Linked DNA regions of Homo sapiens: regions 1, 2, 3, 4 and 6 are each reported to be linked to region 5. The links are microRNA targets in miRTarBase. Many come from high-throughput screens and were not tested one by one. Region 5 holds a microRNA gene; each other region holds the end of a gene's coding sequence. Distances are between the middles of the regions.
The links. Region 5 holds the annotated microRNA hsa-miR-6793-3p (UCCCCAACCCCUGCCCGCAG, at 2,743-2,762, shown strand). A microRNA usually pairs through its seed, bases 2 to 8, with sites in the 3' UTR of a target mRNA and lowers its output. Matches are read on the target gene's strand: a 7mer-m8 pairs with bases 2 to 8, a 7mer-A1 pairs with bases 2 to 7 and ends in A, and an 8mer does both.

Region 1 (4,087 bases), not on the chromosome of region 5:
CCCTCTTCAACCTCATCCTCCCTCCCCACAGGCCCAGAGAACCAGTTGGGCTTTGTTCTCCTGCAGGCTATGGTTCATCATGCAAATAGCTCCTGTGTCAGAAATGCTTTTTGGCTTCAAATAACAGAAAAGCTAACACCAGCTTTATCAATAATAATATCGGTGGTTTACTTAAGGTGTCCAGAGATGGTGGAGAACAGGATTGGTTTCCTCCTCAATGTCAAGGACTCAAAGACTCTTTCTGTGGTAGGGCCACATCCTAAACCCTGTATCCTGTGATTATTTACCTGACAGGGCAAAAGAGATTTTGCAGATGCAATTAAGGTTAAGGACCTTGACGTGGGAAGATTGTGATTATTTACCTGACAGGGCAAAAGAGATTTTGCAGATGCAATTAAGGTTAAGGACCTTGACGTGGGAAGATTATTCTGGATTATCTAGGTGGGCGCAATTTGATCACATGGGTCCCCAGAAGTGGAGAACCTTTCCCACCTGTAGAAAGCCAGAGAGCTGGCACCTGAGAAGGACAGAACTGTCATTGCAGGATTTGAAGATGAAGGGGCCCATGAGCCAAGGAATGCCAGTGACCTATAGAGGCTAAAAAACAGCAAGGAAATGGACTCTCCCCAGAGCCTCCAGAGGAATGCAGCCCTGTTGATCACATGATCACCAGATGGCTGCCCCAGAGCCAAATGTCGCTTCCTGAGCACCATACTCAAAGGCAGGGGAAGTGGATGGAGGGCAGGAGCTCCATTCTTGTTTGCCACTCTCCTTTTGTCAATTGGGAAAAAATTCCAGAAACTCTGGGAGCCCTCCCCTTACATTTCCTGGGTCATGGGGCCAGCCCTAGCTGCTGGAGGGACTGAGAACAGCTGTTGAGCAGTTTACCTGACGGCATCTGCCATGGCTTGGCAGGAACTCTGGCTTTGGGAGAGAGCAGCAGCAAGGTATTCAAGCACCACCTCCACCCAGCCCCTCCCACATTTCACTCAGGACTGAGTAAAGGAGACACTCAGATGCTACTCAGATGCTGGCTTCAGCTAAGTATTTTGCAAAGCCTCTCGTGTTCTTACAAGTTTGTGGCTATCATGACAAAATGGAGCAGCCTACTATATCTACATATACAACTATGGGGGACCTAGTTTTATCTCATTTACCACAATGTTTTCAATCATTTTTTGGATGACATAATTTTTAGCCTCTTCTCTAAATGCTTCCTCAAGCTTTCCTTGCCTTCCAGCCACTGCAAATGACTTGCAGTTTCCCCTACATGGCACCTGACCCTTGTGCCTCCCTCCCTCTGCCCATGGCCCAGAAAGCCCTTTCCTGTGCCCTCTGGCTTCCTGATAAACTCCTATCATCTTCAAGAGCCAGTTCCCATGCCAGCTCTCCCCAAGTGCTCCACTGAGGCTTCCGTAACACCTCTGTTCCCACATCGGGTTGACTGTCTTTGTTTTGTCATTGCTTGCTCTGGCTGTGTCTCCCTCATTAGACTGGGATGCCTTCAAGGTAGGGACCCTATCTGGGTCAGCTTGGCACCCCAAAGCGTACCACAGCACCTGATTCTGAGGAGGCTCTCAGTAGATATCTGTTGAGTAACCAGAATGTAGGGTGGTCCTGATGGTTTCTGACATTGAATAGAAAACAGCTCCCTATTTGATCTTAAAATAATCACTATAACCTGGACATACTGTACTAGATGCTGTTTTTGTCTGACTTCTACTCTGTCAATCTCTTTGCACCTCCATTTGTTCATCTGTGAAATGAAGAAAATGCTCATGGAGTTCAGTGAAGATTAAATGAATGAATATAGGTAGACTGCCTAATCTGGCACTTGCCACGCAGCTGACTTCAATATAGTAGCTCTAATATTATGGTCCTTGAGGATCTTACTGTCTTATGGCCCAGAACTGCATTTGATTAAAGAAGGCTCCCCTAAAAAAAGAGTCATACATATTCCATTTGTCCTTTCAGAAGGCCGTGAAGCATTTACACTCTTTAAGACAAATTCCCATCCAAAAATAGTTAAGATTTCTAAAATATTTTGATGCTGAAAGAGGTGTGCTTCAGTTGGGTGGCAAATTTGCTTCTATGGAAGATTTTTAATACAGGTTGTTTCTATTTTACTTTTTCTGGCTGAAAGGATTTTACATTTATTCAAAGTCAAAAGGGAAAAGAAATCCAAGAACTACAGAAGAGCAGTTGAAGTGATTTATGCTTGATTTCTAAATGCAACTTATGTTTATACATAATTTAAAACTCAAAGAAAGCATGCTTATACAATCATGTGCAACTTTAAACTTTAAGAACTCTGGATGAATACATGGTGGCAACAGTCCATGACACCTGAAAACATCATTTGTGGAGTGGCGTAGAGTTCAGTGTTCGCAGTCGCATATTACAACCATGTTTCACACAGCCCTGCTCGGTTTGATTTTCTCCACGTGGTTGATAATTGTCTTCAGTTGCTGCTAAGTGATTTTGCAAATTTCATTTATAATCCTCGCCCTACAATTACCTAAGTACTGTTTCTGCAGGTTAACCTGTATGCTACGCTCAGTCATATACCTTTCAAAGTTACTAATGCAACTGCCAAAGAGGGACAGTGTCAATATCATTGTCTTCATTAGAAGGACGGCTGCCCCACACTGTGAGAACACTGCTGTTCCTAACAGTAGTTTACTTTTAGAGGGATGTGAGAATTAGTTTGACCTTAATTCCAGATGTGCATGCCTCAAAAGAAAAATCCCATTCTCCTTCCTTTTGGGGAGCACTTTTGGTGGCACCAAGGCTGGTGTGGGGTAGTGGAGAGAGCACTGAGCTTAGAGTCACAACCAGATGAAACTGCTCTGGTCTTCACTAGCTGTGTGACTTGGGCAAGCAGCTTGCAGTCTCTGAGCCTCTGAGATCCCTGATGGACGAGGAGAACAATGACCCCCTCCCCAGGCTGTGCTGAGAGAGGGAATTGATCTTGGATATGAAAATGCTGCCCTGGCACAGAGGTAGGAGCTGAGCAACACTGCTGGATGAATAAACACATGTAATGCAGGGTGAACAGAACATTTCATCTGCAACAGCTGAAGGCACAGCTTACCTATGCCCATGGAAAGAACTGCGTGGAAAATTCATTTGTTGCATTTTTGCCAGGTTGATGTTTGCAAAGCAGGGCACTCTTCTCCACATTTCCCCAAAACCAATCAGAGGGAGACTCCACATTGTTTCCATCTCCTCCCCTCAAACAATTATCAAAGCCATGTAGAACAAACGGCTGTCTGCCAACTGGTAGAGGCAAAGCAGCCAATAATCTGGACAGGGGTGGCAAACTGCTCCTGCAGTTTAACCCTGCCTGACTCTCCCAAGCACCAGACTGTGAAGCCTGGAGAACAGCCTGGGGGAGCTGAACAAATGCACAACACCTCATGCTGTCAAGCCAGAGGGGAAACTTACTGGGAAGAAGATGTAGGAAGAAGCCTGGTCAGCCCACGCCTAAAGCACACACCTGGGGAAATAAATTAGCTATTTCTATTGCACATCTACCCACAGCCTGGTCCAGATCTAAATCTCTTCCCCTCCCAGCAGTGCAGCGGCGGCAGCCGCAGGCTCCCTCAGCGCCATCTCTTCAGTCAGGCTCCTCTCCAGGTCCTCCAGCTCCTGGCGCACCTCCTCCATGAAGCTGCCAACTTCATACTCATCGGGGACCTCTCTGGGCAGCAGGATCTCCCCATCTTGGTCACGGCTCCCCACGAAGGTCGGCTTGCACACATACACCAGGCTGTGGCTGGGGAGAGATGGGACAAAGCCAGGCTCTAAACGTGGGAGCCTGCCCAGGCCGAAAGCTAAGGCGCCCTGACTCTGTGGGGCTCCCAGCCTCACCTTCATGCCCCCTCCTCTCCTGTCTCTTCAACAGAGACACTTCACTTCCCGTCAACATCTATCTTAAAATGATGGCTGAGGGAGGCTCACTTTGGGAGAATGTGCTGGTGGGGGGCAGCTTCCCCTCCTCCAGCGCAGGCCTGACCTCCTGTGACTCTCAGGCCCCGCAGCCCAGGGGCAGGACCTGAGTGCTATGTAGCAGCACCACAGCCCC
Region 2 (4,087 bases), not on the chromosome of region 5:
CCGTGCCGGTCCCTGAGGGCTGCTCCCCTTGCAGCGTGGCCGCCCTGCAGAGCGCGGTGGCCTTCTCCGCTAGCGCACGGCTCTATCTCATCAACCCCAACGGCGAAGTGCAGTGGCGCAGGGCCCTGAGCCTCTCCCAGGCCAGCCACGCGGTGGCGGCACTGCCTAGCGGGGACCGCGTGGCTGTCAGCGTGGCGGGCCACGTGGAGGTGTACAATATGGAAGGCAGCCTGGCCACCCGGTTCATTCCTGGAGGCAAGGCCAGCCGGGGCCTGCGGGCGCTGGTGTTTCTGACCACCAGCCCCCAGGGGCATTTCGTGGGGTCGGACTGGCAGCAGAATAGTGTGGTAATCTGTGATGGGCTGGGCCAGGTGGTTGGGGAGTACAAGGGGCCAGGCCTGCATGGCTGCCAGCCGGGCTCCGTGTCTGTGGATAAGAAGGGCTACATCTTTCTGACCCTTCGAGAAGTCAACAAGGTGGTGATCCTGGACCCGAAGGGGTCCCTCCTTGGAGACTTCCTGACAGCCTACCACGGCCTGGAAAAGCCCCGGGTTACCACCATGGTGGATGGCAGGTACCTGGTCGTGTCCCTCAGTAACGGGACCATCCACATCTTTCGGGTCCGTTCTCCGGACAGTTAAAGGGGCTAGGACTAGGGTGAGAGGGAGTGGGGAGGGAGAGGGCAGGAAGGAGGCAGAGCTGTCCGTGGGAGGTGGAGGCCGAGGACATTTTCCTGAAGGGCAGGGGTTGGCAACTTTTCAACATGGAGTGCCAAACTGCTAACCCGTCTTCTAGTGTGTGAGAATAGGGACCAAGGTGGTGGCGTGACCTTAACTCTCAGAAGCAGAGGAGGCAGGTGGGTGGAGGGGGATGCTGGGAGTTCACCTGCCTCTTGCTTTTTGTGGGTGGCTGCTGCCACCACCGCCGCTGCTATATAGTTTAGGTTTCTGAGGTTTGTGAGCCTGTCCTGCTTTGCATTCTTCAAAACCATTCCTGATAGAGTAGCCGAGGGAGAGTCTTGGGGCCAAGAAGGGCCCAGGGTGGGTCAGGCGTGTGCACTGTGGAACAGAGCTGAGACCCCGGCCCCCCTTGGACTGGCACAGGGTCCTACAGAGTCAGAGGAGGCCTGAGATTTCGAATGGGCAGTGAATGGCCTCTTCTGCCAGCCACAGGCAGGATGCTCCTTGATCACGGCATCCCCCGGCGGTAGTACAGGGTGAGCTTGCAGGAGGGTCTGCAAGTGCAGACAGCAGCTGGGGCCAAAGAGGTGTTAGGTTCAAAGGCTGCGAAGAGAATAGGCTACTGGAAAACCAAACCCAACAGAATTCACGTCCAAAAATCCACATTCTCCATCGCTTCTCAGCCTTTTGGCTAAGATTAAGTATTAAAAAAAAACCAGGCTCTGCCAGGCGCAGTGGCTCATGCCTATAATCCCGGCACTTTGGGAGTCTGTGGCAGGAGGATTGCTTGAGGCCAGGAGTTTGAGACCAGCCTGGGCAACATAGCGAGACCCCATCTCTACAAAAGATTAAAAATTAGCTGCGTGTAGTAGCATATGCCTTTCAACGTAGCTACTCAGGAGGCTGAGGTGGGAGGATCCCTTGAGCCGAGGAGTTTGAGTCTGCAGTGAGCTATGATCGCACCACTGCATTCCAGACCCCATCTCGAAAAAAAAAAAAAAAAAAAAAAACAGAAACAACAGAAAAAGCAGGTTATCCATCACTTCTCAGCTAAGATCAAGTGTTAAAATAAATAAATAAATAAATAAATAAATAAATAAATAAATACCAAGTTATGAGTGTCAGAGCAGGGGAGCCCTCCACGCAGCCACGGAGCCAGTCTGAGGGAAGAGGTACATAGGATAGAAAAATCTCTAGGCTCCAACGCTTCTGCTTCGGTGTCTTTCCATTTCCCAGGGTCTATGTGTTGCCTTCTCTTCATTTTCCAGCAAAATTCCTTTTGAGATATGTTGGCCTTCACTCGGCTGAACTAGGGGGTGAAGGAAGGTTGTCCTCTGTGGGCCACTATTGCTGGGGAAACAGCTAAACCCTGCAGGCCAAGTGGAACTTGGAGGTGCCAAGAAAACCTAGAAGGTGCAATGGGGCTGCGACGGATAGAGGTGTCAAACCAGAAGGGAGGAACCCGTCGGAGGTGGGCTGTGACCACCGGACCTTTTCATAAGTGGTGGCAGTGGTAGAATTGAGGGGGCAAGTAGGCTTGGAGAATGTTTTTAGCCAGGGGCTGTTGAGAGATGGCAGAAGGGGGTCTTAATGTGGGGACTGTGGACAGTGGGGCATTCGTGGGAACCAGAGGGATTTTGGACAAGTCCAGATGGAATGTGCAGGGCATAGGTAGAGGGAAAAGAAAATCCCTTTCTGGGAAAACCATTTCTTGTTTATTGAAACAATGCAGGACATCATCAAAGTCCGGGTGGACACATTCCATTATCTACAAATTACAAAGGTAGGCACAGCAAAGAATAATGAAGATTATAAGAAAACCAAGCGCCAGGCACGGTGACTCAAGCCTGTAATCCCAGCACTCTGGGAGGCTGGGGTGGGTGGATCACTCAAGGTCAGGAGTTCGAGACCAGCCTGGCCAACATGGAGAAACCCCATCTCTACTAAAAATACAAAAATTAGCTAGGCGTGGGAGCGGGCGTCTGTAATCCCAGCTACTTGGGAGGCTGAGGCAGGAGAATCATTTGAACCCAGGAGGTGGAAGTTGCAGTGAGCTCAGATCGCACCATTGCACTCCAGCCTGGGTAACAAGAATGAAACTCCATCTCAAAAAAAAAGAAAAAGAAAAGAAAGAAAACCAAGGTCCCTCTCCCTCTCCCTCTCCCCACGGTCTCCCTCTGCCTCTCTTTCCATGGTCACGGTCTCCCTCTGATGCCGAGCCGAAGCTGGACTGTACTGCTGCCATCTCGGCTCACTGCAACCTCCCTGCCTGATTCTCCTGCCTCAGCCTGCCGAGTGCCTGCGATTGCAGGCGCGCGCCGCCACGCCTGACTGGTTTTCGTATTTTTTTGGTGGAGACGGGGTTTCACTGTGTTGGCCGGGCTGGTCTCCAGCTCCTAACCGCGAGTGATCCGCCAGCCTCGGCCTCCGGAGGTGCCGGGATTGCAGACGGAGTCTCGTTCACTCGGTGCTCAATGTTGCCCAGGCTGGAGTGCAGTGTCGTGATCTCGGCTAGCTACAACCTCCACCTCCCAGCCGCCCGCCTTGGCCTCCCAAAGTGCCGAGATTACAGCCTCTGCCCGGCCGCCACCCCCTCTGGGAAGTGCGGAGTGTCTCTGCCTGGCCGCCCATTGTCTGGGATGTGAGGAGCCCCTCTGCCCGGCTGCCCAGTCTGGGAAGTGAGGAGCGCCTCTTCCTGGCCGCCATCCCATCTAGGAAGTGAGGAGTGTCTCTGCCCGGCTGCCCATCATCTGAGATGTGGGGAGCACCTCAGCCCCGCCGCCCCGTCTGGGATGTGAGGAGCGCCTCTGCCCGGCCGCGACCCAGTCTGGGAGGTGAGGAGCGTCTCTGCCCAGCCGCCCCGTCTGAGAAGTGAGGAGCCCCTCCGCCTGGCAGCCGCCCCGTCTGAGAAGTGAGGAGCCCCTCCGCCCGGCAGCCGCCCCGTCCGGGAGGGAGGTGGGGGGTCAGCCCCCTCCCGGCCAGCCGCGCCGTCCGGGAGGGAGGTGGGGGGTCAGCCCCCGCCCGGCCAGCCGCGCCTTCCGGGAGGGAGGTGGGGGATCAGTCCCCGCCCGGCCAGCCGCCCCGCCCGGGAGCGAGGTGGGGGGCGCCTCCGCCCGGCCGCTGTCCCGTCCGGGAGGTGGGGGGTCGCCTCTGCCCGGCCGCCCCGTCTGGGAGGTGAGGAGCCCCTCTGCCCGGCCACCACCCCGTCTGGGAGGTGTACCCAACAGCTCATTGAGAACGGGCCATGATGACGATGGCGGTTTTGTGGAATAGAAAAGGGGGAAAGGTGGGGAAAAGATAGAGAAATCAGATTGTTGCCGTGTCTGTGTAGAAAGAAGTAGACATGGGAGACTTCATTTTGTTCTGTACTAAGAAAAATTCTTCTGCCTTGGGATGCTGTTAATCTA
Region 3 (4,087 bases), not on the chromosome of region 5:
CATCCATCCACCCACCCACACACCCACCCATCTCATCCATCCATCCACCCAGCCCCATCCACCTATCCATCTAGTCCATCCACCCACCCACCCATCCATCTCATCCATCCATCCATCCACCCATCCATTTCATCCACCCCCACTCATCTATCCCATCCATCCATCTCAGCCACCCACCCACCCACTCATCCATCTCATCCATCCACCCACCCATCCATCTCCACCAACCCACCTATCTCATTCATCCATCCATCCATCAATTCATCTCATCCACCCATTCATCTCATCTACCAACCCACTCATCCATCCATCCACCCACCCATTTCATCCATCCACCAATCCATTTCATCCATCCATCCACCCATCCATCCATCTCATCCAGCCACCCAACCATCTCATCATCCATCCACCCATTCATCTCATCCACCAACCCACTCATCCATCCATCCACCCACTCATTTCATCCATCCATCCATCCATCTCATCCACCCACCCACCCCATCCATCCACCCATCCATCCACCCACCCATTTCATCCACCCACCCATCCATTTCATCCATCCATCCATCCATCCATCTCATCCACCCACCCACCGACCCATCTCATCCATCCACCCACCCATCTCATCCATCCACCCATCCATTTCATCCATCCATCCATCCATCCATATGATAGATCTCATCTTTAATTAAAGTAATTATATTTCTGGTTCTAGGTAAAACAAAATAAATCACTACCCATGGCCCAGTTATGCTAATTGTTTATTGCTTTTTTTTTTCTTTTTGTAGATATTTAAACAAGATTTGCTGCATTTCCGGCAATGCCCTGTGCATGCCATGGTCCCTAGACACCTCAGTTCATTGTGGTCCTTGTGGCTTCTCTCTCTAGCAGCACCTCCTGTCCCTTGACCTTAACTCTGATGGTTCTTCACCTCCTGCCAGCAACCCCAAACCCAAGTGCCTTCAGAGGATAAATATCAATGGAACTCAGAGATGAACATCTAACCCACTAGAGGAAACCAGTTTGGTGATATATGAGACTTTATGTGGAGTGAAAATTGGGCATGCCATTACATTGCTTTTTCTTGTTTGTTTAAAAAGAATGACGTTTACATATAAAATGTAATTACTTATTGTATTTATGTGTATATGGAGTTGAAGGGAATACTGTGCATAAGCCATTATGATAAATTAAGCATGAAAAATATTGCTGAACTACTTTTGGTGCTTAAAGTTGTCACTATTCTTGAATTAGAGTTGCTCTACAATGACACACAAATCCCATTAAATAAATTATAAACAAGGGTCAATTCAAATTTGAAGTAATGTTTTAGTAAGGAGAGATTAGAAGACAACAGGCATAGCAAATGACATAAGCTACCGATTAACTAATCGGAACATGTAAAACAGTTACAAAAATAAACGAACTCTCCTCTTGTCCTACAATGAAAGCCCTCATGTGCAGTAGAGATGCAGTTTCATCAAAGAACAAACATCCTTGCAAATGGGTGTGACGCGGTTCCAGATGTGGATTTGGCAAAACCTCATTTAAGTAAAAGGTTAGCAGAGCAAAGTGCGGTGCTTTAGCTGCTGCTTGTGCCGCTGTGGCGTCGGGGAGGCTCCTGCCTGAGCTTCCTTCCCCAGCTTTGCTGCCTGAGAGGAACCAGAGCAGACGCACAGGCCGGAAAAGGCGCATCTAACGCGTATCTAGGCTTTGGTAACTGCGGACAAGTTGCTTTTACCTGATTTGATGATACATTTCATTAAGGTTCCAGTTATAAATATTTTGTTAATATTTATTAAGTGACTATAGAATGCAACTCCATTTACCAGTAACTTATTTTAAATATGCCTAGTAACACATATGTAGTATAATTTCTAGAAACAAACATCTAATAAGTATATAATCCTGTGAAAATATGAGGCTTGATAATATTAGGTTGTCACGATGAAGCATGCTAGAAGCTGTAACAGAATACATAGAGAATAATGAGGAGTTTATGATGGAACCTTAAATATATAATGTTGCCAGCGATTTTAGTTCAATATTTGTTACTGTTATCTATCTGCTGTATATGGAATTCTTTTAATTCAAACGCTGAAAAGAATCAGCATTTAGTCTTGCCAGGCACACCCAATAATCAGTCATGTGTAATATGCACAAGTTTGTTTTTGTTTTTGTTTTTTTTGTTGGTTGGTTTGTTTTTTTGCTTTAAGTTGCATGATCTTTCTGCAGGAAATAGTCACTCATCCCACTCCACATAAGGGGTTTAGTAAGAGAAGTCTGTCTGTCTGATGATGGATAGGGGGCAAATCTTTTTCCCCTTTCTGTTAATAGTCATCACATTTCTATGCCAAACAGGAACAATCCATAACTTTAGTCTTAATGTACACATTGCATTTTGATAAAATTAATTTTGTTGTTTCCTTTGAGGTTGATCGTTGTGTTGTTGTTTTGCTGCACTTTTTACTTTTTTGCGTGTGGAGCTGTATTCCCGAGACCAACGAAGCGTTGGGATACTTCATTAAATGTAGCGACTGTCAACAGCGTGCAGGTTTTCTGTTTCTGTGTTGTGGGGTCAACCGTACAATGGTGTGGGAGTGACGATGATGTGAGTATTTAGAATGTACCATATTTTTTGTAAATTATTTATGTTTTTCTAAACAAATTTATCGTATAGGTTGATGAAACGTCATGTGTTTTGCCAAAGACTGTAAATATTTATTTATGTGTTCACATGGTCAAAATTTCACCACTGAAACCCTGCACTTAGCTAGAACCTCATTTTTAAAGATTAACAACAGGAAATAAATTGTAAAAAAGGTTTTCTATACATGATCTCTCTCCCTTTTTTAAAAAGAACTAGCAGGGTTTCTACCGGGGTGGGGGAAAGGGGTAGAAGGAATTGGCATTTTGCTTCCTGTCATGTAAGTAGGCCTGTGGTGTGATCACGGGCTATCTCCTCGCAAGTCACAGGTTAAAATGCAGGCTGAAGGGCCTGGTGGAGAAGGAAGCCCTGCTTGACACAGGTCTCTGTTCTGCTGAGCCTCCCAGCACGGTGTGGGATACAACCATTTAGCAATTCATCTCTCCTGCCTCTGCTCATTGTCAAACGAGGGAACAGAACTTCGTAGGGAATTTGGCAAACATGATTGAAATGATTCCGAAAAAGGCAACAGCACACGGGACCCTCTCCCTAATACGAGCTGTTCTTCCCTCTTGACTCATTCTTCTGAGTCAGGTGGAGGGAAGTAGCGGACCCCAGAGGAAGGGCCCATTTCCAACCACAGCACTGCCTAAAAATGGGCCGATCGGGCTCACCAGTTGGAGGAGGCAATGGCAGCAGCACAGAACGCTGGGGTTTCTTTAGCAGCTCCAGCTGCTCTTGTTGGGATTTCTGAATATTATGCAGGCAGACACAGAGAAGAAAAACAGGGAGAGAGGGAGAGAGGGCATCCAGAGAGAAAGGGGAAGAGAGGGAGGGAGAGAGGGAGAGAGGGCATCCAGAGAGAAAGGGGAAGAGAGGGAGGGAGAGAGGGAGAGAGGGCATCCAGAGAGAAAGGGGAAGAGAGGGAGGGATGGGGGAGAGAGAAAGAGACAAAGAGACAGAGGGAAAGAGGGGGAGTTGGGGGAGGGAGGAAAAGAGAGCAAGATGAATAAAAACAAGTATACTTGGCTGAAACACGCTGGAGTGAGTCAGACAGTGAAGCAATAAGATATAGGAAAGGCCGTCTGAGGCAACGGGCTGTGAACTGAAGGCCCTGGCTTTGAGTTGTGAAATGAGTGAGTTTTAGTTCATCAATATGGAGGAAAAAGCTAGACCTACATGTGTAAAAAGAAAAGTTTAGAAACAAAATAATGATGGCAGTGATAGTGGCTGGTCTATGGACAGCTACTGGAGGAAGCTCAATGTACATTTTACTCATGAAACAAAAAATACATATAATATGTTGAATAAGGATGCTTAGAAGTCAGGCATTAAAATGAGATACATTTCTCCTGCATTCAGGTTTTGCTGTCATTTATCGAAAAGTTGAGGTTTCCTGACAATCATGTTCCCTGTCGATGGCCTTAGCCACATCAGAAT
Region 4 (4,087 bases), 27 Mb from region 5:
CTCAATGTACATCGAAAAATGCACACAGGAGAAAGACCGTATCGTTGCAGAGAATGTGGAAAATCCTTCAGCCAGAAGTCATGCCTCAATAAACATTGGAGAACTCACACAGGAGAGAAGCCCTATGGGTGCAATGAATGTGGGAAAGCTTTCTACCAGAAGCCAAACCTCAGCAGACATCAGAAAATTCATGCTCGGAAGAATGCCTACAGGAATGAAAACTTAATAATTGTGGGAAATACTTGAGCAAAATATCTGGTTTCATGGTATGTAGGGAATTTTTTTTTTTTTTTTTTGAGTTGGAATCTCACTTTGTCACCCAGGCTGGAGTGCAGTGGCGCGATCTCGGCTTACTGCAAGCTCTGCCTCCCGGGTTCACGCCATTCTCCTGCCTCAGCCTCCCGAGTAGCTGGGACTACAGGTGCCCACCACCATGCCCGGCTAATTTTTTTTTTGTATTTTTAGTAGAGACGGGGTTTCACCGTGTTAGCCAGGATGGTCTCGATCTCCTGACCTTGTGATCTGCCCGCCTTGTCCTCCCAAAGTGCTGGGATTACAGGCGTGAGCCACCGCGCCTGGCCGGTATGTAGGGAATTTATCCTTAGGAGAAATCTTATCATTTTAATGAATTTGAACAGTGTGTTTTTATTTTATTTATTTATTTATTTTGAGTTGTATTCTCTGTTTCCCAGGCTGGAGTGCAATGGCACTATCTCGGCTCACTGTAACCTCAGCCTCCCAGGTTCAAGCAGTTCTCCTGCCTCAGCCTCCCAAGTAGCTGGGATTACAGGCACCTGCCACCACGCCTGGCTAATTTTTGTATTTTTAGTAGAGATGGGGTTTCACCATGTTGGTCAGGCTGGTCTCTTTGGCTAGGCTGGTCTCGAACTCCTGACCTCGTGATACCCCCCAACCCCCCGCCCTTGGCCTCCCAAAGTGTTGGGATTACAGGCATGAGCCAACGCGCCCAACCGACAGTGTTGTATCATAATGGAAATCATGATCTAATTGTGATACAAACTTTTCTAGAAAATACTTTCTCAAACATAAGCATGGACACCCTGGCATGTAAACGTTTAAAAATGTATTAAATGGAATAACAGCAGAATACAAAATATCTGTGAAGAGACTTAAAGGCATACTCTGGTATATTCCACAGTGAGCCATACAATCAGCATTATTTGTATTTTGGAGTTGTAAATGTGAAATTAACATAAAATGTGAATATCAGACACATGTCACACAACATATAGAATGCCATTCAGAAAACTTTTCCACTTTAAATATCATCATTGTCTTTTGATGTCTTAACAATACAAAAAAATAACAACAACATGGCCCACTATTGTTAAAAGAACTTTATTATACCAGCTACATTTTTCCACCTTTTTGTAATACATGTAAATGGCTATAGAGGTTGTTACTGTCCTCTGCAGAAATAATAAAGCAGTGTTTTTAAATGTATTTGGATAATTTGGCCAAAAATTTTACTAAAATGTAGTTATTTATATTAAAAATGCAAGCTAAGGAATAGTTTAAGAACCTGATACTGGGTAAATGAAACACTGTAAACTATTTGACAAAATGTAGTGTCACCCTGGTGTACAGTACACTGTTCATATTTTCTTAGTCTTGCTTAAAATATCTTGTAGCAAATTAGTAGCATTGCTACACTATTCTAGATACACTATTCTATATACAGGTTGTATAACTCAGAAATGTTTCATGCGTAGACCACTGAAGGAGAATTTCTTTTCTCTCTATCCCTCTGCAAATTAATTCAAGAATATTCATTTTTTTCATATAAATTTCCTTGCAAGTGTCCTAGACACTAAATCCCAAGGTTTTAATTATTTCAATGTTTGGAAAGAAGTCTGCTTCCCTGAGTTGCTATGTCATCCATATTAGAAAATAAATGGCCATGTGGAATCTACATTTTTCAAGATTTCCCTCCATGTAAGACTGCCTGATCCAGAATGAGAAAGGAGACATAACCACAGATATCAATATGATTTTTTAAGTGATAAAAAGATACCTCATACAACTCTAATCAACATATTTTTTAAAAAGAGGAGGTGGATGCTTTTCTAATAAACTTAAGTTATGAAAACTGCAATAAGAAGTAGAAAACTTGGTAGGATAGTTAACATTGAAAAACTCAAAAAAGCTATTAAAGATCTATAATGGGAAAATGCTCCAGGCTCAGAAGAGTTCATGCTTAGTTCTATCTTTTAAAGAAAGAGTAATACCAGTGTTATTTATTATATGGATGTAATACAATCCATGAACTGTACTCATTTATTTTATTAAGTCAGAATAAATTTTAACACCAAAATCAAATACAGATAGTTGAAAAAAGAAAACTTCTGCTGGGTGCGGTGGCTCACGCCTGTAATCCCAACACTTTGGGAGGCCGAGGCAGGTGGATCATGAGGTCAGAAGTTCGAGATGGTGAAACCCCATCTCTACTAAAAATACAAAAATTAGCCGGGTGTGGTGGCACACACCTGTAGTCCCAGCTACTTGGGAGGTTGAGGCATGAGGCAGGAGAATTGCTTGTACCCAGGAGGTAGAGGTTGCGGTGAGCCAAGATCGTGCCATCCAGCCTGGGTGACAAGAGCGAAACTCCGTCAAAAAAAAAAAAAAAAAAAGAAAACTTCAGACCAGTCTTACTCATGAATATAGAAACAAAAATTATAGTTAAAATACTAGCAAATAGAATTCAGCCATATACCCAAAGAGTGACATAGTAAGAGTCATCCCAAGAATGCCAAACCAGTTCAGTTAATAGGAAATGCATCAATCAAATTAACAGTTTAAAGGAGAAGAATCATATGAACTCTCAACAGATACTGAGAAGGCATTTCATAGAATGTGTTAATTTACATTGTAATAGATGGGAACCACTTAAAGCGGTTTTTCTTAAAAAAAATTTTTTTTAACCCAAACCCCAAAGCATATATTATGCCAAAGCCATTTTTTAAAATCAGGAATTCAATATTGGCTTAGAGATTCCAGTGAAGGCAATAAAAAGAAATGAATTGGTATAAACAGCAGAAAAGGTAAAACTATCCATTTTTACTGATGATATGGTTGTACACCAATAAATGAAAAGACTATTTTTTGAGTTAACTTTTCTAAGAAGACAGGGTACCAAAATCAAGAGCTGTTCTCCATACTGACAAGAAAACATAATTTATATGTACTTCTTTTGGAATTACACTAAATCTCAATGATTTTTTGACAATCATTGAAAAAAATATATGAAAAAAATCATACCATGTATAAAAACATCACATGTACCCAATAAATATATACAACAATTATATATCTATAATAATTAAAAATTTTTAAAATGCCATGCTAGATACCAGAAGATAACATGAAGCCATTCTAATGAAATTAATATTGTATTGGCAAAGGAACAGGTAAATACATCATTAGAACACAGTAGAAAATTCAGAAATAGACTTCGATATATATGAACTTTTTCATATGTGAAAAAGGTGAAATCTGAAACCACAGGGGAAAAGAGTAGTTTACTTAAAAAGAATTCTGGAACAGAACCTTTTAATCTTAAAGGAAGAAAATTTGGATTAACAGCACAAAAATAAATTCTGGGTGGCTTTAAGACGTAAAATTTTAAAGCAACAGAATTCTTAAAAGAAAATCAAAGGAGCCTATGTGTACAATCTAGGAGTTGGGAGATATTAACTTTACCAACACAGGACACTCAGAAGCTATTTAGAAATAAGCAGTTGAAGGCTGGGTGCAGTGGCTCATGCCTGTAATCCCAACACTTTGGGAGGCTGAGGCAGGAGGATCACCTGAGGTTAGGAGTTCAAGACTAGTCTGGTCAACATGGTGAAACCCCATCTCCACTAAAAATACAAAAATTAGCTGGGTGTGGTGGCACATGCCTGTAGTCCCAGCTACTTGGGAGGCTGAGGCAGGAGAATCACTTGAACCTGGAAGGCAGGGGTTGAAGTGAGCTGAGATTGCACCACTGCACTCCAGCCTGGGCAACAGAGCAAGACTCCATCTCAGAAAAAAAGAAAAAGAAAAAAAAAAGGAAACAAACATTTGA
Region 5 (4,082 bases):
GGCCAGAGAGATCAAGTAACCTGCCCCAAGTTCCTTAGGAAAGTGGGAAGTGGGATTCAAACCCACGTTTACCCTGGTTGCAACCATACCCTTGGGTTGTGTTGGGCAGCCGCTGTGTCCTAATGATCTGGGGCCCAGCCTCTTCCTCATGGGCGTCACCCGCCTGGCCCCGGGTTCCCTGGAGACTCTCAGGGCTCTGGGCTCCTCTTCAGTGAAATGCAGCTGTACTGATAGTATCTCCAGCTCAGGCTGCTAGAGGGCTCAGGGCACTTGTGTATCAGGCCTTTGGCATGGCACTAGCCACTCAGGAAGCTTTATAAACCAGCTTTGGGGCCGGAGCAGTGGCTCATGCCTGTAATCCCAGCACTTTGGGAGGCTGAGGAGGGAGGATCACTTGAGCCCAGGAGCTGAAGACCAGCCTGGGCAACATAGCCATACCCCAGTCTCTACAAAAAATTTAAAAATTAGCTGGGCGTGGTGGCAAATGCCTGTAGTCCCAGCTACTCAGAAGACCGAGGTAAGAGCATCACTTGAGCCCAGGAGGTTGAGGCTGCAGTGAGCCATGATTACGCCACTGCTCTCCAGCCTGGGTGATGGAGCAGGAACCTCTTTCAAAAAAAAAGTGTCTTGGGTTTTGTATATGAATGTCAACCACAGAAACCTGCGGATCTAAGTAAAACTCCCACACAGGGTGTGGCTGGGCATGGTGGCTCACATCTGTACTCCCAGCACTTTGGGAGGCTTGGCAGGAGGATCACTCGATCCCAGGAGTTCAAGACCAGCCTGGACAACATAGTGAGACCCCATCCCTATTTAAAACACACACACACCTCCCACGTGCCATGCCCTCCCACCCTGTTGCTCCCATTCTCAGTAGTGATCAGTGTTCACAGTTTCATGGTGTCCTGGTATGTTTCCTCATATACCGATAGGATCGGAGACATATACGGTTCTTCTGCTATGAAATTTAAAATGCATATATCCTTTGACCCTGCAAGTTTACTTTTAGGAACTTCTCTAAGAGAGACAATTGCCCACGTGCAAAGTGAGCTTATACATGCTTATTGTTTTCCATGATGTTTTATAGCAGCCAAAGATGGGACATAATTATCCATTTTTAATAGACTCTTATAAAATAAAAATATTTTATTATTTAAGAAAATAATAAATCTGTCGGCCCAGCTACTCGGGAAGCTGAGGCAGGAAGATCACTTGAGCCCAGGAGATCGAGGCTGCGGTGAGCAAAGATCGCTCCACTGCATTCCAGCCTGAGTGATAGGAGTGAGACCCTATCTAAAAAAAAAAAAAGTTGTGACGGCCAGGTGTGGTGGCTCATGCCTGTAATCCCAGCACTTTGGGAGGCTGAGGCGGGCACATCACGAGGTCAAGAGACTGAGACCATCCTGGCCAACATGCTGAAACCCCCCTCTACTAAAAATACAAAAATTAGCTGGGCGTGGTGGCACGCGTCTGTAGTCCCAGCTACTCTGGAGGCTGAGGCAGGAGAATCACTTGAACCTAGGAGGTGGAGTTTGCAATGAGCGGAGATCATGCCACTGTACTCCAGCCTGGTGACAGAGGGAGACTCTGTCTCAAAAAAAAAGAAAAAAAAAAGTAACTGAAAAACTTCTGTATCCAGTAGGAGGTTCCAGAAAGGACAATGTATAAAATTCATGAACAGAAACTAGTAGTGTTTGAACAGAAGCCAGGTGGAAGATGTAACAGGATTAGCCGGGCGCAGTGGCTCACTCACGCCTGTAATCCCAGCACTTTGGGAGGCCAAGGCGGGTGGATCACCTGAGGTCAGGAGTTAAAGACCAGCCTGGCCAATATGGTGAAACCCCATCTCTGCTAAAAATACAAAAATTAGCCGGGGGTTGGGGGGCACGCCTGTAGTCCCAGCTACTTGGGAGGTTGAGGCACAAGAATTGCTTGGACCCAGGAGACGCAGGTTGCAGTGAGCCAAGATTGCACTGCAGCCTGGGTGACAGAGTGAGACTCTGTCACAAAAAAATAAAGATATAACAGGATTGGCTGGGCGCGGTGGCTCACGCCTGTAATCCCAGCACTTTGGGAGGCTGAGGCAGGCGGATCATAAGGTCAGGAGATCGAGACCATCCTGGCTAACAGGGTGAAACCCTGTCTCTACTAAAAATACAAAAAATAAGCTGGGCGTGGTGGCAGGCGCCTGTAGTCCCAGCTACTTGGGAGACTGAGGCAGGAGAATGGCATAAACCCGGGAGGCGGAGGTTGCAGTGAGCTGAGATTGCACCACTGCACTCCAACCTGGGCGACAGTGAGACTGTCTCAAAAAAAAAAAAGCAAAAACAAAAAAGATATAACAGGATTATTCTGCCAAGGTTAAGGAAATAAATAAATAAGCTAAAACAGGAGAAAAGACATCAATGGAAGAGGCAAGATACTAGAAATAAGTTGAATAAGAATCTCATAACCAGCCTGGGCCACATGGTGGAACCCTATCTCTAAAAAAATTACAAAACTTAGCCAAGCATGGTGTCAACGTGCCTGTCGTCCTAGCTACTTGGGAGGCTGAGGCAGGATAATTACTTGAACCCGGGAGGCGGAGGTTGCAGTGAGCTGAAATTGAGCCACTGTACTCCAGCCTGGGTGACAGAGCAAGACTCTTTTTCAAAAAAGTCTGGGGGTGGCCCCGCCCTGTGAGAGATGTTTTTCCAGCAGTCACTGTGGGTTCTGGGTTGGGGTGATACACAAGCCTGACCCTCCCCAACCCCTGCCCGCAGACGAAGGCCTTCATCCACCACGAGCTGCTGGCCTACCTATACTCCTCGGCAGACCAGAGCAGCCTCATGGAGGAGTCGGCTGACCAGGCACAGCGGCGGGACGACATGCTGCGCATGTACCATGCCCTCAAGGAGGCGCTCAACATCATCGGTGACATCAGCACCAGCACTGTGTCCACGCCTGTACCCCCGCCTGTCGATGACACCTGGCTCCAGAGCGCCAGCAGCCACAGGTCCGGAAGCCTGGTTCCCCTACCCTCAAGCATTCGGCCTGCAGGTTCCTGCCCTCCCTGTGTGTCCTGCAGGGTCCTGGCAGGAAACAGGACACAGCCCAAGGGTGGCACCCAGGGCTGGGCACTGTGGGAGCTGCTGCCCTGCTGAGGCCGGAGGAGGGAGAGAAGGGGTATGGGGGCGAGCCAGCCCTACAGCTCTAGGGCAGGACCCTGTGAATAAATACCCCGCCTGCCCTCTGCTGGTGCCTTCCATTGGCACAGCCCAAATGGAAGCTGGGGTAAGAGGCTGGAGGGGCAGCAGCCACAGGAGAGAGATGAGCCTCCTGGAGCACAGAGAAGGGCAGATGGGAGGCTCTGGAGGGGCAAACGCAAGGCGTGGCCAGAGCTGCTGCCGCCCCTGAGTTGTCCATTGAGGCCGTCGGGCAGGGAACCTCAGAGGGGGCTGCCTTGCAGAGCCCTGGGGGAGCCATGGAGTTCCTTAAGGGGAGGATATCGCACCCAGGCCTGCAGGTGGCAGGGACTGAGGCCCAGGAGGGAATCTGGATGTCTGGACAGGGCTTGCAGGTTCCACGGCCCCTAGAGATATTAGGGCTTGATCTGGAGGACTCTGGAAGTGTCTTTGGCTGTGAGGGTGGATCCCAGGCCCAAGGCCTGAGGGGGCCCTGTGAGTGGGAAGTGCCTGAGGGGGCCGAGGGCAAGGGAAGGTGGGACTGGCGCTCAGGTTGGGGTGGGAGGATCCCACTGCGCCTGCGCTGTCCCCATAGCCAGCCCCCACCTCAGGTTCTGGCAGCCACAGTGGCATGGCGGGGGCTCCTACTCCATCTGTATCTGTAGCTCACACCCTCTCCTTCCTCACAGCCCCACTCCACAGCGCCGACCGGTGTCCAGCATACACCCCCCTGGCCGGCCCCCAGCAGTGAGGGGCCCCACTCCAGGGCCCCCCCTGATTCCTGTTCCCGTGGGGGCAGCAGCCTCCTTCTCGGCGCCCCCAATCCCATCCCGGCCTGGACCCCAGAGCGTGTTTGCCAACAGTGACCTCTTCCCAGCCCCGCCTCAGATCCCATCTCGGCCAGTTCGGATCCCCCCA
Region 6 (4,087 bases), not on the chromosome of region 5:
CGTGTCTACTACTTCCTCCGTGTACCTTTGATGATCAGCTGTAGGTGGGGATGGGAATGGTGGAAGGTGAGATAAGGCTGGTTTCGTGTGTTTGTGGGGAGGGGCATGATGTGTGTATATGGCATGGGAGGTGAGAAAAAGGGAAGAACTAGGTTCCCTGGATACAAAAGTCTAGTGGTCAATATCAGTCAAGGGCTTCTATTGACTGACAATCCAAGGTAGCTGTGGAGACAAGTGGATGGGGTGAGGATGGGGGGGTCCATGGCAAGATGAAAATTTTCTCTTTGATCAGTAAAAGGAATACCAGGACAAAATGGATCTAAGCAATGACTTTGGGTTTCCAGCTTGGCTCTGGGGATGGGGACACAAGGGGCACGTCCTCCCACAGGGGGCCAAGAAGGAAGCTCCTTGGTTTTATGAATAATCTGTATCCTGGAAGAGTTGGGTGAAATTTATGTGCAAATCCACATGCCCTTTAAAGAAAGCTGAGATGTTTCTCTCTGCAAAGCCAAGGCTTCCTGGTGAATCTTCACCCTGTGGACTGGTCCCCTCGGGAAGCCCATGTATATGACGGTTTGCTAAAAGCAAGACTGACTGGAACAACTCGCTGCTGAGTCAGTGACTTATGTGTACAGGGCACCTGTGTGCAGCTGTGATGGGACAAGGGCAAACACACAAATCTTGGTCGTGTCATTGTATAGAATGAGTTGCAGGTGAGGCTGGTAATTATGATGTAAAAATATACAGCCTCTTTCCTCTTTTTTTTTCCTCCCTGCGTAAGATGAATATAACCTCCTCCCAAAACCTCATCAGCGAATAAAGATGGAAGCCAGCAGGGAAAGCAGCGGTTTGGTTCTTCCTGGATTTAAATGTGTGCAAATTAAAGCTGGTTTCTCAACAAGTCAGGGCGGTGTAGAGGGGACAGGGTAGGGGCGTCAGGAAGGCACTGAAGGCCAGGATCCTGGCCTGGCTGCAGCAGAGACCAATGCAGGTGGGGACAGAGTAGTGAAGTGGGGAAAGATCGAGAAGTCAAGAGCAAGTGACTCAGATTCAGGGATGGACCCAAGGCACCCTGTTCCACAAAGGGCTGGGTTTTCCCCTGGATCACTCAGGCCCTGTCCTTAATCCCAAACTGGTGCTCATGAATGAATGGAAAAATCAGCTGTTGGAGATCATGCTAGGCCTTGCCAAAGGCTGTGGTTGGACATTTTAGTTAATTCTGGAAACAAGAGAGGCAAGAGTGAGAAGGTGCCAGTTCTTGTGGACATTTCAGCTGCAGGGTAGTAGACCCTGGCTGCCTCTTCCCTTCCTCATATCCTGTCTCTTGGCACAAGGGAACATGACAAGGACTGGAGCCTGTGGACCCAAGAAGTCCTGGTGTGATGGAAGAGAAGTGAGTGGTTGGGTTTCAGGCACTCAGTAGGCTGCTGGGCAGAGCCAAGACAGGTGCAAGTCCAGGCCCAGGGCTGGGACACAGAGTGTTGTGTTGGGATGGGGAGGTGTCCATTGACAAGAGCCATCCCCAGCAACCCCAGAGTGGCTGGGGCTCAGGCAAACATATATAAAATGCCTCCAAGACACACACACGTCGTCAAGCCAAGAGCCATAGATGTCCCCAGAAGAGCAGTGTCTGCTTAGGAGCAGCCCAAGCCGGGGTCTTTAGTCCTCTAGTCCCAGTAAGCTGGGAGTGTTGGAAAGGCAATTCAGGAGGGCCCTTTGGGAAACACAGGGGTTTCCTGTAGCCAGGCTCCTGGGAAGCATGACTGATCTCACCATTCTTCCCGGTTTGGAAGCAGGTTTGGCCCCCAGAGCATGAACCAGTCTGGGAGTCACCCAAGGTGGGGAAGAGATCCTCATAGGTCTATTTGGATTTTGAAAGTAAGATCAGGTAGGGTTTTTGAAGTTCCAGTTCCTCTCTCTGGCCCTCTAGGAGGGAGATGCCTGGATAGATAGTAGCTACAAGAAAACTAAGGCCCAGGTAGTACCCAGGAAACACAGAGGGGCTGTGGCCGCCCTGGGCTTCCTGTTCACTGCCCAGATAATCCTGCTATTGCTCTGCTTGGGGACAGATTTCCCTTTTGTATCAGGTCACATGCAGGGGGTCAGGGCTTTGAAAACATGGGCAAATGACCCAGAGGTTCTCCTCTCCCATCTGCATGCCCAGCCTGCTCTCGGCATCCTTCCTACAGATACAGAACACCAGGGGCTTCCCCAACATGGTCAGGAAGAGTCGCCGGCCCAGGTTGGGATCAAGAGGAGGGAGGGAAGGTGGGGCACTGAGGGAACACACACAGGTGAGGGACACAGGCTTCCGATGGGGAAGCTACTTGAGGACCCCGCACCAGGCTAGAGCAAAGAACGCAGAAGTGTAACAAACATCCTCCCTTTGTGCTCCCCCAACAGGACTCCTCAAGGGTGACAGGCAGGGAAATCTTTTGCAAACGTGTTATCATAGGTACAGCCACATAACCCAACATGGACGTACCCCAAGAACCCGCATCCACCTTGGTGGGGGAATAAGCTTCACTGGTGTGAGTAGCAGAGAAGAGGGAAGAAAAGGAATGTCCTAGAACTCCCTGCCCAGAGCCCTGATTCTCAGGGACCAGACTTCAGGGGGTGCCCTGAATGACGGTGAGCTCTAAGGAGCCCCTCAGAAGTCATCTTGGCTTTCCAAATGGCAAGGAGGTGCGGGCAGTGAGGTGAAAAGGGATGCTACTCTCAGAGAACAGGAGAAAACAGCAGAAATGGGGGAATAGGTCCCCCAGAGAGACCCAGAACTCAAAAGACGTTCTAACTTTCCTACTGTACTTCAGAGCTCTATGCAAAGGTGCCACACGCCATGACAGGCTCGGGTTGGGGTGTCTGAAAACAGATATTTCCAAAGGAACGAGCTTAGCCACTCCCGACCTTCCCTGCTCGATCTTGGCTCAGTAGCCTTGACTAAGCTGCCACTCGGCTCTGTACCCTCCTCTTAGCTTCCCAGATGGTACAGCTGGAACCTACCACATACAGACAGAACTGAGGAGTGCCCCGTCATTGGGACAGTCTGGCTCTTGCTTGTCAAGGGGAAACAAGAGTGAACAACGTCAAACACACAGACACACACACACATAGCCCCGTCTGTGAGCCCCCCCACGTGGGGTCTCCTGTCCTAGTCCCATAGCCCAAAGGCACCACGTGCAGCCTGCAGTGCTCTCATTAGTGCTGTCCCCTGGGCCGCACTGATCAATAACGCATCACCCTGGCTGGTCCGGTTCAGTCCTAGCTCGGGGGTCCCCAACCCTGCCCGAGGAAAAGGGCTCAAGTCTGAGGTGCAGGGAGGCCGCCGAGCAGTTGTCCAGTGCTCCCAGGTCGGTCGGGGTTGGTACCCTCTGATGCTGAGTCTCTGGCCTCCTGAGCTGGCAGAGGACAGAGTAGGGAGGGAGAGGTGACGGGAGCCCAGGCAGCTGGGCGCCGTCCCGATGTCCAAAGGTCACAGCCTGGAGTGGGGAGAGAAGGGAGAGAGTGGTGAGAGGTCACAAGGACATGATGATGTCATCCGTTGTGAATGACACCCTCTCAGTGGGCCAGGTGGCTTGAGATGAACTGTTCCTGTCTTCTGCAAGAAGACATGGAAGAGATTTCTGTTAACTGAGTTCTTACTATATGCTGGGCTCTGCCACACACCTGATCCCATTTAAGCCTGAGATGAGCCTGCAATATAGGCTACTAATATTTTCAAAGATGAAAATAATCAGAGACGAACTTCTACGACAGAATCATACAATTTCACAGATGAAAACACTGAGGCTTCGGGAGGTTAAGTGTTTTGCCAAAGGGCACACTGCCAGGAAGCAGCAGGGTCAGGATTTGAACCCAGAACTTTTCCCACTTGGGCATGGACTAGGAATGGTCATCTAGTGTATGGGGCTGGGATAAAGCTCTGTAACAGCTAGAGAGGCAGGAAGAGGGGGTGGGACTGGGATCCACACTGCAGCCTCCTGCTATGAGCAGACTTTGATGTCCACTGCAGCAAAAGGAACTCATTTATTTTGTTGACTGCTGTATTCTCACTCTTAGAACAGTGTCTAGCACATAAAAGATGTTC

Region 1: miRTarBase lists DKK3 as a target of hsa-miR-6793-3p. Seed matches in the 3' UTR shown: 7mer-A1 at 3,185-3,191.
Region 2: miRTarBase lists TRIM56 as a target of hsa-miR-6793-3p. The part of its 3' UTR that is shown has no 7-base or 8-base seed match.
Region 3: the mRNA of THBS2 is a reported target of hsa-miR-6793-3p. The part of its 3' UTR that is shown has no 7-base or 8-base seed match.
Region 4: miRTarBase lists ZNF793 as a target of hsa-miR-6793-3p. The part of its 3' UTR that is shown has no 7-base or 8-base seed match.
Region 6: miRTarBase lists KSR2 as a target of hsa-miR-6793-3p. Seed matches in the 3' UTR shown: 8mer at 3,274-3,281, 7mer-m8 at 2,395-2,401 and 8mer at 2,209-2,216.

Annotation. Positions count from the first base shown.
Region 1 is chr11:11,960,909-11,964,995 of GRCh38, forward strand. DKK3 (dickkopf Wnt signaling pathway inhibitor 3) reads right to left here. Exons shown (of 7, transcript NM_001018057.2): 7 at 2,128-3,778. The coding sequence ends at 3,556. It overlaps USP47 (ubiquitin specific peptidase 47), which reads left to right. Exons shown (of 28, transcript NM_001282659.2): 28 at 1-979. Among named protein-coding and RNA genes, the nearest start is that of DKK3, 46 kb to the right of the region's middle.
Region 2 is chr7:101,088,940-101,093,026 of GRCh38, forward strand. It overlaps TRIM56 (tripartite motif containing 56), which reads left to right. Exons shown (of 3, transcript NM_030961.3): 3 at 1-4,087. The coding sequence ends at 641. Among named protein-coding and RNA genes, the nearest start is that of TRIM56, 5.5 kb to the left of the region's middle.
Region 3 is chr6:169,214,531-169,218,617 of GRCh38, reverse strand. THBS2 (thrombospondin 2) reads left to right here. Exons shown (of 22, transcript NM_003247.5): 22 at 789-2,833. The coding sequence ends at 796. All of the region lies in intron 2 of THBS2-AS1 (THBS2 antisense RNA 1), which reads right to left. Among named protein-coding and RNA genes, the nearest start is that of THBS2-AS1, 3.4 kb to the right of the region's middle.
Region 4 is chr19:37,537,634-37,541,720 of GRCh38, forward strand. ZNF793 (zinc finger protein 793) reads left to right here. Exons shown (of 8, transcript NM_001013659.3): 8 at 1-4,087. The coding sequence ends at 246. The region is part of intron 1 of LOC124904708; the gene reads right to left. Among named protein-coding and RNA genes, the nearest start is that of ZNF571-AS1, 9.3 kb to the right of the region's middle.
Region 5 is chr19:10,826,274-10,830,355 of GRCh38, forward strand. MIR6793 (microRNA 6793) reads left to right here and starts at 2,700; the gene lies at 2,700-2,762. It overlaps DNM2 (dynamin 2), which reads left to right. Exons shown (of 21, transcript NM_001005361.3): 19 at 2,763-2,995; 20 at 3,854-4,082.
Region 6 is chr12:117,463,727-117,467,813 of GRCh38, forward strand. KSR2 (kinase suppressor of ras 2) reads right to left here. Exons shown (of 20, transcript NM_173598.6): 20 at 1-3,479. The coding sequence ends at 3,473. Among named protein-coding and RNA genes, the nearest start is that of NOS1, 100 kb to the left of the region's middle.